Homo sapiens: one gene and its partners. The protein of the gene in region 2 purifies or fractionates together with the protein of the main gene of each other region. This does not show direct contact. Each region holds a gene or a part of one and is shown on either strand. Other genes may lie near its edges.

Evidence for each region. Proteins that work in one complex are often made in the same cells at the same time.
Region 1: the proteins of OGDHL (region 2) and CEP135 purify together in Homo sapiens (co-immunoprecipitation; one large-scale study listed by IntAct). This does not show direct contact.
Region 3: the proteins of OGDHL (region 2) and NDUFAF7 purify together in Homo sapiens (affinity purification with mass spectrometry; one large-scale study listed by BioGRID and IntAct). This does not show direct contact.

The regions. Positions count from the first base shown.
Region 1 is NC_000004.12:56,007,945-56,011,444, reverse strand, and holds part of CEP135 (centrosomal protein of 135 kDa), read right to left. Parts: intron 3,119-3,500; coding exon 3,063-3,118; intron 1,711-3,062; coding exon 1,542-1,710; intron 34-1,541; coding exon 1-33. UniProt on the Homo sapiens protein: Centrosomal microtubule-binding protein involved in centriole biogenesis. Acts as a scaffolding protein during early centriole biogenesis.
Region 2 is NC_000010.11:49,752,324-49,755,823, forward strand, and holds part of OGDHL (2-oxoglutarate dehydrogenase-like, mitochondrial), read right to left. Parts: intron 418-3,500; coding exon 315-417; intron 1-314.
Region 3 is NC_000002.12:37,234,658-37,238,157, forward strand, and holds part of NDUFAF7 (protein arginine methyltransferase NDUFAF7, mitochondrial), read left to right. Parts: intron 1-1,438; coding exon 1,439-1,519; intron 1,520-3,099; coding exon 3,100-3,210; intron 3,211-3,500. UniProt on the Homo sapiens protein: Arginine methyltransferase involved in the assembly or stability of mitochondrial NADH:ubiquinone oxidoreductase complex (complex I).

The sequences.
Region 1 (3,500 bases), on a different chromosome or scaffold from region 2:
TTGCACTGCTGCTTCCAATTCCAATGAGATTTCCTACAAATCAGAAAATTAAAGACAATCTAAAATGAACACAACACCAAATAAATTTTATTTATATTCAAATAATTCCTTTGGAATTGGAGAATAAGATAGAGTAGGGCAAAAGGAAAACTGTTCCTAAGTGTTATTTTCACATATTTTTCCTGGCTGATCTTGCCTTTTAAAATATTTCAGACAGAGTCTCATTCTGTCGCCCAGACTGAAGTGCAATGGCGTGATCACAGCTCACTGCAGCCTCGACCTTCTGGGCTCAAGCAATCCTTCCACTTCAGCCCTCCGAGTAGCTGAGACCACAGGCACATGTCACCATACCAGCTAATTTTTTTTTTTAATTTTCTGAGATGAGGTCTCACTATGATGTCCAGCCTGGTCTCAAACTCCTGGGCTCAAGCAATCCTCCCACTTTGGTCTCCGAAAGTGCTGGGATTATAGGCGTGAGCTACCACGCCTGGTCTGATACTGACTTTTTAACCAAACTTTATCACACATTTCCCATAATAGTCCTGATCATGTATCTGGCATTTACACTAAAGGCTAGCTATGGTCAGGGGTTGACATTAAAAAACATTCATATTTCATCAATATGCTTTATGCTGAATAATACGGAAAATAATTTTTTAAAAACGTAAGATGTTTAAAACAGTAAAATCACTGGTTTTCTCAGTACAATCTTTTAAGAAACCAGCACGAACAGAACTAACACCTTTCAGTACTTGCCATTCTAAAACACTCATTCATTTATCTACAGGTGTATTTTGGAGCCGACAGAAGCTTGCACAAATAATTAAAACCTATCCTGAGTCTTTAAAACACAGAAACTTTGCTCTGGGAGGGATGCTGATGTCCTCGCCCGGTAGGGTGACAATGATTTCTGACATACAGAATTTCATGCTCCCACCTTTAGGTTTCCTTGCAACAAAGACCAAAATGGTGAGAAGACCAGTTGCACCCATTAGACACCCTGTGATATATAGCAGCATTCTAAGCTATGTGTTTTTTTTTTGACAGAGTCTCACGCTGTTGCCCATTTTTTTTTTTTTTTTTTGGATGGAGTCTCACTCTGTTGCCCAGGCTGGAGTGCAGTGGCACGATCTCGGCTCACTGCAACCTCTGCCTCCAGGTTCAGGTGATTCTCCTGCCTCAGCCTTCCGAGCAGCTGGGATTACAGGCGCATGCCGCCAGGCCTGGCTAATTTTTGTATTTTTAGTAGAGATGGGGGTGGGGGGGGGGTTTTCACAATGTTGGCCAGGCTGGTCTCGAACTCCTGACCTCAAGTGATCCACCCACCTCAGCCTCTGAAAGTGCTAAGATTACAGGTGTGAGCCACTGCGCCCGGCCTAAGCTCCATTTTTTAATACCCTGATAAACACCATTGTCCTTAATGAATTATTTATGTCACTTATTTTTATATCATCAGATTTTAGAAAAAATATTTAGAGCTTTAATATTTAGCAAACAATGGAAAGTATAAAACTATCAAAATTTATGCCTTGTGTTCATACTTGATTTTCTCTTGCCATTGTAGCCAGGTCATCTTGCAGTCTTCTGTTTTCCTTAAAAGCGATTTCTCTAGATCTTCCTACTTCATCGAGTTCTTTGTGAGCTGCATCAAGCTGGCGCCGGAGGCTGTTTATCTCACGATCTCGATTAACCAATGTTTCTTTCAGCTGGCTGTTAAATGAGTGATGTGAAACTAATAAAGAAAACTTTTAAAAACTGTAGTTCATTTAAAAGAAAACTTATAGTCTAAGTATACTTAGAATACAAATATACTGTGATTATAAGAAATTATAACTGCTGCATTAAGAGACCTATTAATTAGGTAGAACAGGTATTTTAGAGCTCTACCAATAATTACATGCAAATGAAGTTAAAAAAAAATGTTATTCCAACAGTCAAGTAAACACAGAAAACTTTCAAGTGTTAAAAGTTGAATAGCTTGGGGGCTGGGCGCGGTGGCTCACGCCTGTAATCCCAGAACTTTGGGAGGCCGAGGCGGGCAGATCATGAGGTCAGGAGATAGAGACCATCCTGGCTAACACGGTGAAACCCCGTCTCTACTAAAAATACAAAAAAAAATAGCCGGGTGTGGTGGCGGGCACGTGTAGTCCAGCTACTTGGGAGGCTGAGGCAGGAAAATGGCGTGAACCCGGGAGGCAGAGCTTGCAATGAGCCGAGATCGCCCCACTGCACTCCAGCCTGGGCAACAGAGCGAGACTCCGTCTCAACAACAAAAAACAACAACAACAACAAAAACAGTTGAATAGCTTGAGCCCAGGAGTTCGAGACCAGCCTGGGCAATATAGGGAGACGTTGTTTCTACAAAAATTTTTTTTTAAATTAGCTGAGCGTGGTGGCACACGCCTGCAGTCTCAGCTACTCAGAAGGCTGAGGTGGGAGGATCACCTGAGCCTGGGGAGGGTGAGGTTGCCGTGAGCAGAGATCTCGCCACTACACTCCAGCCTGTGCGACAGAGTGAGACCTTGTCTCAAAAACAAACAAACAAAAAGTAAAGCATAGATTCAATTGGCAAATATTTATTAAATGTTTATAATCCCCACTATTATATAAAATGTTAAGGGTATGTAAAATAAATATAATAAGTGACTTTTTTCTTGAAGTGGCTTACAATCTGCCTAGAGAGACTATACATAAAATGTAAAATTTTGTGACAGTGCTCAAGATAGGTTTAGATGGAGAATAAATTCGAGATTGGCTACTAAAGTAATTTTAGGTTTTAATGATTAGGCTCCAAGTGGCATAATTATAGTAAAAATAAGGAACAAATAGGTATATAGGAGAATAGTTAATAAGACATAAGTGTTTAGATGTGGATGACAGAAAAGGAGAGGTTAAAGAAGATAACATTTTCAAGCTGGAGACTGAGAAAATGATGCTACCATTGACAAAAATGGGGAAATTGAAAGGGAAATTCTTCTATTGCTGCAATGCTACTGAATAGATAAAGCTGTATTCACTGAAAATCTCCTAAAAAGCTGGATGTAATTTCATTAATGACTTACTTCACAGATGATTCACACTCTGAGATCATTATCTTCATTTGAGCAACAGCTTTTTCCTATAGAAATTACAAAAATGTGTAAGATTTTAAACCAAAATGTCTTTAGCTAAATTTATGTAACTTGTCATATTCATATAGTTCAAATACACAGCTCAATTATATAAAGTATGCCTAAAACAAAGCTCCAAGTAAACATATCTCCATGTCCCAATCATACTTCACATACTGGCATGTTTTGACCAACCCTTGAATAGTTTTCTTGAGTTTGCTTTAATGAGATCTGATAAAATCACATTCTAGAAATAGACAAAATCACATTTTGAAGATTAACATTATTTGAAAAAAATGACATTTAAACATTAGAAAATATGGCCCTAGGTCTTAGAAACTTCTACATGGCCAATAATAACTGCATATTTGGGAAACTTCTGGGTCTAAA
Region 2 (3,500 bases):
GTCTCACCAGACCTCCCAGTCTCCCCAGTGCCCTCCCTCTGGGTCCAACCTGGGGAGCAGAAGTGAGAGTGAGCCCAGGGAGGCAGGGTGGACAAGCCTCTCAGGCTTGAACACATGGGGCACAAGCTAGGGAAAGTGGCAGGCATCCTTCTCAGGAACAACAGGCAGTACACAGGCAAGGTAGAAAGGAGGCCCTGTGGGCTGCTCCCCGAGCTCCATGGATTCCCAAGGATCAGGCTGTCCCTAGTGCCCGTGGGCCCCTTACTGGGCCACCCACACAGCACTGCCATGGCCGTCCTGAGGAAGGGTCTTACCCAGTTTATCAATGGTTGTGATCAAGTCTGAGGGCACAAAGGAGTCCAGGTCTGCATCCAGAATGCCCAGGGGGTCCAGCTGGGCCACATGGTGACCCCGGATCTGGGAGGAGGGAAAAGAGCAGGGTGGGGCTGGGACCCAGCTGGACAGACCTCCTCCAGGGTAAGGCTCTGGGCCCCAGCCCCTCTCTTCCCATTCCCGAATGTTAAGCTTCCCCATGTCTCTGCCCCGCGGCTACTTCACTGCTGCCTGCGAGACCCCAGCCACAGCCAGTAAGGTGGCAGGAGCTCAACCTGGTTTGGAAGTACAACATGCACGGGCAAAAACAGGAAAAAGACCTATGCACAAAGGTGTTCACTGCGGTGCTACTAGTAATAGTGAAATTCTAGAAACTTCCCCACTGTCTATCAGCAGGAGACTGGCGCATGGATATGGGCGATCCACACAGCGGAGCACTCCAGAGCCATTAAAAGGAAGAAGAAAAATCCCCATCTGATACTACAAGGTAGTCTCTAAAAAATATTGTTAAGCAAAAAAGCAAATTCTAGCAAAGTATGTATGGTGAACTACACATTATCTAATAAAAAGGAGACACAAATAAATATATGCATTAGAAGGGAAAATCATAAAATTTAAAAAAACCACAACATAAGAAAAATTATCCTCTAGGGGAGGGGACAAAATAGGATAGAGAGGCAGGGCTAGGAGCCAGATTTTTAAGAAGTTATCTTACTTTGAAGATTTGACTTTCAAACCTTGTAAATATTTTACATTCTTATAAAACAAAATTAAGTCTTAAAAATTGAAAGTGAAATGAATCAAATGAATAAATATGTCCACTTAGTGGCATAAATACAGAGAGAAACCATTCCAATTGACTAATGGAACATTCCCTAAAGACAAACAGAAAAAAATTCATCAAGTCTTTTTTATTACCAGTCAGTCGTAATAGTGTTAGAATTGTTATGCTGGCTGGGCACAGTGGCTCACACCTGTAATCCTAGCACTTTGGGAGGCTAAGATGGGTGGATCACCTGAGGTCAAGAGTTCAAGACCAGCCTGACCAACATGGTGAAACCCCATCTCTACTAAAAATACAAAATTAGCTGGGCGTGGCGGCACATGCCTGTAATCCCAGCTACTTGGGAGGATGAGGCAGGAGAATCGCTTGAATCTGGGAAGTGGAGGCTGCAGTGAGCTGAGGTCGCACCACTGCGCTCTAGCCTGGGCTACAAGGAGAAACTCCATCTAAAAAAAAAAAAAAAAAAAAAAAAGAACTGTTATTCTAAGATTGTTGCATGTGAGCTCTGGGAAATCAAACAAGCCATTGTACTGGCATCTTTGAGAACCTCTATTTTTGACATCTCTAAAGGCAATGTTGCCATAAGATTGACAGGGTCAAGGACAAACCCCAAATCCCACATTTGTAGCACGTTAGAAGCATCAGTATAAACCCTTTCCTGGCTCTGATTCCTGAAAGGGCCCAGAAGTAATGATCAAACCAATAGCAGGAAACAGCCAGAGACCTGGACAGTTCTGGAATAGGCAGAAATGTACAAGCTGAGCTTGAAGCATCTTGTTATACCAACATCAAGGCAGTGTTCAAACACCACGAGTGCTGGGAATAAGGACAAGTTTTGAGCAACTATAAGGACAGTATACCTACAGCAGATTGAAACTCATCAAATATGTTTATATTCATGCATTCATATGAATCCAAAAAAAAGAAGATAAACTTTCATTAGTCACTTTTGGAGTGTGCTAGGGAATCACCTCATAATTTTGAAAATCACTGAATAAAAGAAAAAAATAAAGCAGTGATCCTGTCTTTCCTACACAATCTGCACCTCAGGATAAACAGAGTTAACAAACGGAAGTTTCTCCTGATAGTGGGACTTCAGTTAATAAAGAAGGCAAAACAGAATTGGCATATCACCATTTTTGCAACCCCTAGTGAGTTAATGGATCTAGGAAATCACTATCCACAGCTGCTAACTGCTCAAGTGCCATCACCATCACCACCAGGAAGCTGATTTTGAAAAAAAAAAAAATCAAATGTCTATGGGATCGAGCCTCTAGATCTAATTGTCAAAGTACAGAAATTACATGGGACAATGGGACAGATGAAATGACATCATGAGGAAGCCATCAGCAAAATCCAGACTTGGGAAAACCCTACAGGACAAACCACCTGGTTTTTCCACATCATAAAAAGAAACAGAGGGAACCTGCAAAGTACAAGAGACGTAAGAGCCACTTTAGCCTATTGCAACCTGTGGATTTAGCTGGATCCTGCTTCAAAGAAGCAGTAAAAAGAAAGCACAGGCTGGGTGCAATGGCTCACGCTGTAATCCCAGCACTTTGGGAGGCCAAGGCGGGCAGATCACTTGAGGTCAGGAATTCAAGACCAGCCTGGCCAACATGGTGAAACCCCGTCTCCACTGAAAACACAAAAATCAGCCAGGCGTGGTGGCAAGCACCTGTAATCCCAGCTACTCAGGAGGCTGAGCCAGGAGAATCACTTGACCACGTGGGGCAGAGGTTACAGTGAGTCGAGACTGCATCACTGCACTCCAGTCTGGGTGACAGAGTAAAACTCCATCTAAAAAGAAAAAAAGAAAGCACAGGACAAAAGGCAAACACAAATGTCAACTGCATATTTGATATTAGGCATTATTATGTTTAGATGCGATAATGGTATCATGGCACATTTTTTAAGAAGCCCTTTTCTCTAGACATACACAAAGAAATGTTCAATGAATGAAATGCTATATCTGGGATCTGCCTCAAGATAATCAGCAGTGAGCGGGGGCTAAGGGGGAAATTGATGAAACAAGGCTGGCCATGATTGATGGGTGGTGGGCTCACTGCACTATCCTTCTGCCTTTTATATGTTTGAAAATGCTTATAATAATACAGTGTTTTTTTTTCAGCACAGTGTGCAGGTGATTCTAACCACAGCTGTGCCTGCTACTCGCCTGTAAGGGGCTGCAGCCCTCCTGGTGGGAGCTCATCCACACCAGGCACAACAGAGTAACACACCTGAATCCAGAAGCCACCCTGCCAGGAAAACTCTCTAATGCCTCGTCTTGGTTAATCAAAGAACAAAGAGCTACTGAAGGGCTGAGATCTGTGCTTAGAAGATAAGGCCCTCGGGCAGCACCCTGAACGTTTCCCTGTATTTA
Region 3 (3,500 bases), on a different chromosome or scaffold from region 2:
CTTGATTTATTTTGAATGCTGAAGGGGGAAAGTTGAAGCTGGAAGAGAGAAGGGGACAGCTAAAAGGACTCAGGGGAGTTGTATGAGGAATGGTCCAGAGCACAGGCGGAGGGATTAGGTTTGGATGAGAGGAGAAGGGGAAGGCATTTCATTCTTGGAGTCCCCAGATTAGGTTAGAGGCCAGGTGGGGATGGGAAGCTGAGGAATTCGTATTTTATAACATTCTTTAATTCTGGAGTGAGACTGGGGCCCATGTCACCTGTAGTAAGGTGGTAGAATAGGAGCTTGAGAAGCATAAGAAATATTTAACTCAATTCTTGAGTGTTTCTTGAAGGTTAGGCATCGTGCTAAAACTTGGGATATGAAGATAAATAAGGCATGATCTTCTGCAAACAACTATACTTTGTGGTGAAGAACAGAGACAAATTAGCTCAGAAAAGGTGGCACTGGATTTGGCCTTAGGTTGGAGGGCTGGAGGAGGTCAGCTAGGTGGCATTTGAGCAGATTCGGAGGTTGAGTATAAGACTGCCAGGGAAAGTTGAAAAGGGAGAAGGGTGAGGATTTGCAGTGGCATGGATGTCTGGACAAGCAAGGCTAATAAGAAAAAAAAAAACAACCCTTTTTCTGGAGATATAATATTCATATAGAAAAGTTCATAAACCACAAGTTTACAGCTCAATGAATTTTCACAAAGCAAATGCTCCCATGTAACCAGCACCCAAATCAAGAAACAGAACATCACCAGCAGGCAGGGCCCATATGTGAGGCAGAAAGTGTTAGAATTTGGAGAGGAGGCTGGAGGAGTAGGCAGGGTCTTGCTGTGTTGGGTGTGGGAGCTGGGAGGGGAGGAAGGGTCTGGCGTGCAGAGATGGACGTTACATGACTTCTGCCTTTACGGTCAAGGTGTAATTGTTTTTCTACCGGTTTTGTAAAATGACTGTTACTTTGTAAAATTTGGGTAAAGACACCATATTTCCCTTGCTTATTTATTTATTTATTTATTTATTTATTTTTTGAGATGGAGTCTCACTTTGTCACCTAGGCTGGAGTGCAGTGGCGCGATCTCGGCTTACTGCAAGCTCTGCCTCCGAGGTTCACGCCATTTTCCTGCCTCAGCCTCCCAAATAGCTGGGACTACGGGCACCCTCCACCATGCCCGGCTAATTTTTTTGTATTGTTTTTAGTAGAGATGGGGTTTCACCATGTTAGGCAGGATGGTCTCAATCTCCTGACTTCGTGATCCACCCGTCTCGGCCTCCCAAAGTGCTGGGATTACAGGCATGAGCCACCACACCTGGCTCCCCTTGCTTATTTAGAGGAGAGAACTTTCTTACTAAATAATTATTTCACTTTTACATTATTTAAGATTTTGGAGGGGTATTTTTAAAAGGCTTATTTGAAAATTAATTTTGTTTCTCTATTTTCTCTTTTTACTCAGGGTTATTATGTGTACCGTGACATGCTAGGCGAAAAAGGAGATTTCATTACTTCACCTGAAATAAGTCAAATCTTTGGGGAGGTAATATACTATGTAAAGTATGAATGAAGCTAATATAAACATTTGAGAGCAGATCAAATTGTATTATTCTGTAGTAGTGTTCTACAGCTTTTTTTGTGATTCATCAAAAGTTTTAACTTTATAGTAGTTTATGTACTGAGGGAATAGAGAGGCAGTAGAGGGGAGTAAAATGGTAGAGAGAATATTTGAAAAGTTTATACTCCACTGTAGGAAGGGAAATGGAGAGATAAGAGGGACAAAGAGAAAGAGAAGGAAAGGAGGGGGTCATAAAGAGGACAGAAAAAGGAGAATCAGATGAAGGAAGAGAATGGAAGAAGGGGCCAGGCGTAGTGGCTCACACCTGTAATCCCAGCACTTTGGGAGGCCGAGGCAGGCGGATCACAAGGTCAGGAGATCAAGACCGTCCTGGCTAACACGGTGAAACGCAGTCTCTACTAAAAAAAAAATACAAAAAATTAGCCGAGCGTGGTGGCGGTCGCCTGTAGTCCCAGCTACTTGGGAGGCTGAGGCAGGAGAATGGCGTGAACCCGGGAGGCGGAGCTTGCAGTGAGCCAAGATGGCGCCACTGCACTCCAGCCTCGGCGACTGAGCAAAACTCCGTCTCAAAAAAAAAAAAAGAGAATGGAAGAAGGAAGAGAGACAAAAGGAAAGGCGAGGAAAGAGGTAGAGTGCCCAGGAGAGTGCCCGGGAAGGAAGAGAGAAAAGATAAAGAGCATTGAAGAATTAGTGGAATTAAGAGAAGCTCTAAAGCTCCCAGTCATGATTTTAGCCGTACTTACAGTAAAAGTCTTCTTTTATTTATCTATTTTTTGAGCCAGGGTTTTGCTCTTATTGCCCAGGCTGGAGTGTAGTGGCGCAATCTCGGCTCACTGTAACCTCTGCTTCCCGGGTTCAAGCGATTCTCCTGCCTCAGCCTCCCGAGTAGCTGGGATTACAGGCATGTGCCACCACTCCTGGCTAATTTTGTATTTTTAGTAGAGACAGAGTTTCTCCATGTTGGTCAGGCTGGTCTTGAACTCCCGACCTCAGGTGGTCCACCCGCCTCAGCCTCCCAAAGTGCTGGGATTATAGGCGTGAGCCACCACGCCCAGCCAAGTCTTCCTTTAATAAACAGAATTCTAATTCATTTCCACTAAGTACCTTCTATGAATTTAGAAATAGGAAATAGTGTATACGAGGAAGTAGAATGTGCGTATCGAAAAACATTAGTTATTATAAGAATCATGTAATTGTTTAAATCATATGAATATGAAGAAATGGCATAATCACATTTCATATGTTTATTTGCTTTCAAATACTAATACCTTTCTGCTAGTGATATCCTCTTATCTATGTCATGGGACCTTTTATAGCAGAGGCTGCCTTATTTTTTCCTATTAATCTTCCTAAATGGTGTATGTTATGATGTAGTCCCAGGAAGTTCCTATGTGAACATGTACGTATGTATTGAACAACATACATATGGCTGTACACATTTTGCTTTTTGGCATATAGTGCATATTTATGTGAAATTTTATATTGTGGTATACTTTTATACTTTATAATACTTTAATATGTGTTTTTTTTTTCCCTTTTCACAGCTACTAGGTATATGGTTCATTAGTGAATGGATGGCCACTGGAAAAAGCACAGCTTTCCAGCTGGTGGAACTGGGCCCAGGTAGGGGAACCCTCGTGGGAGATATTTTGAGGGTAGGTAATAAAAGAATGTCTTCTAGTCTCATATAAGTGAATTTTAGTACTTCTGAGTGTGCAAACCATGTTGATTTCATTGGTTTTCAGTTCCTTAATTTCATATTTCTCAGCTAAAATATAATGTCAGAATAATGTAATCAGTCATTACTTACTGTTGTCTGTAAACTTAAAAATTGGAGGGGAGGGGGAGAATATGAAAGCTAAAAATAGGAAACATTTAGAAGACATTATGGGAGAGTGTATTTGTTTCCTCAGGAAGGAAAGTTGTTAATTATATTAAAAGTTTA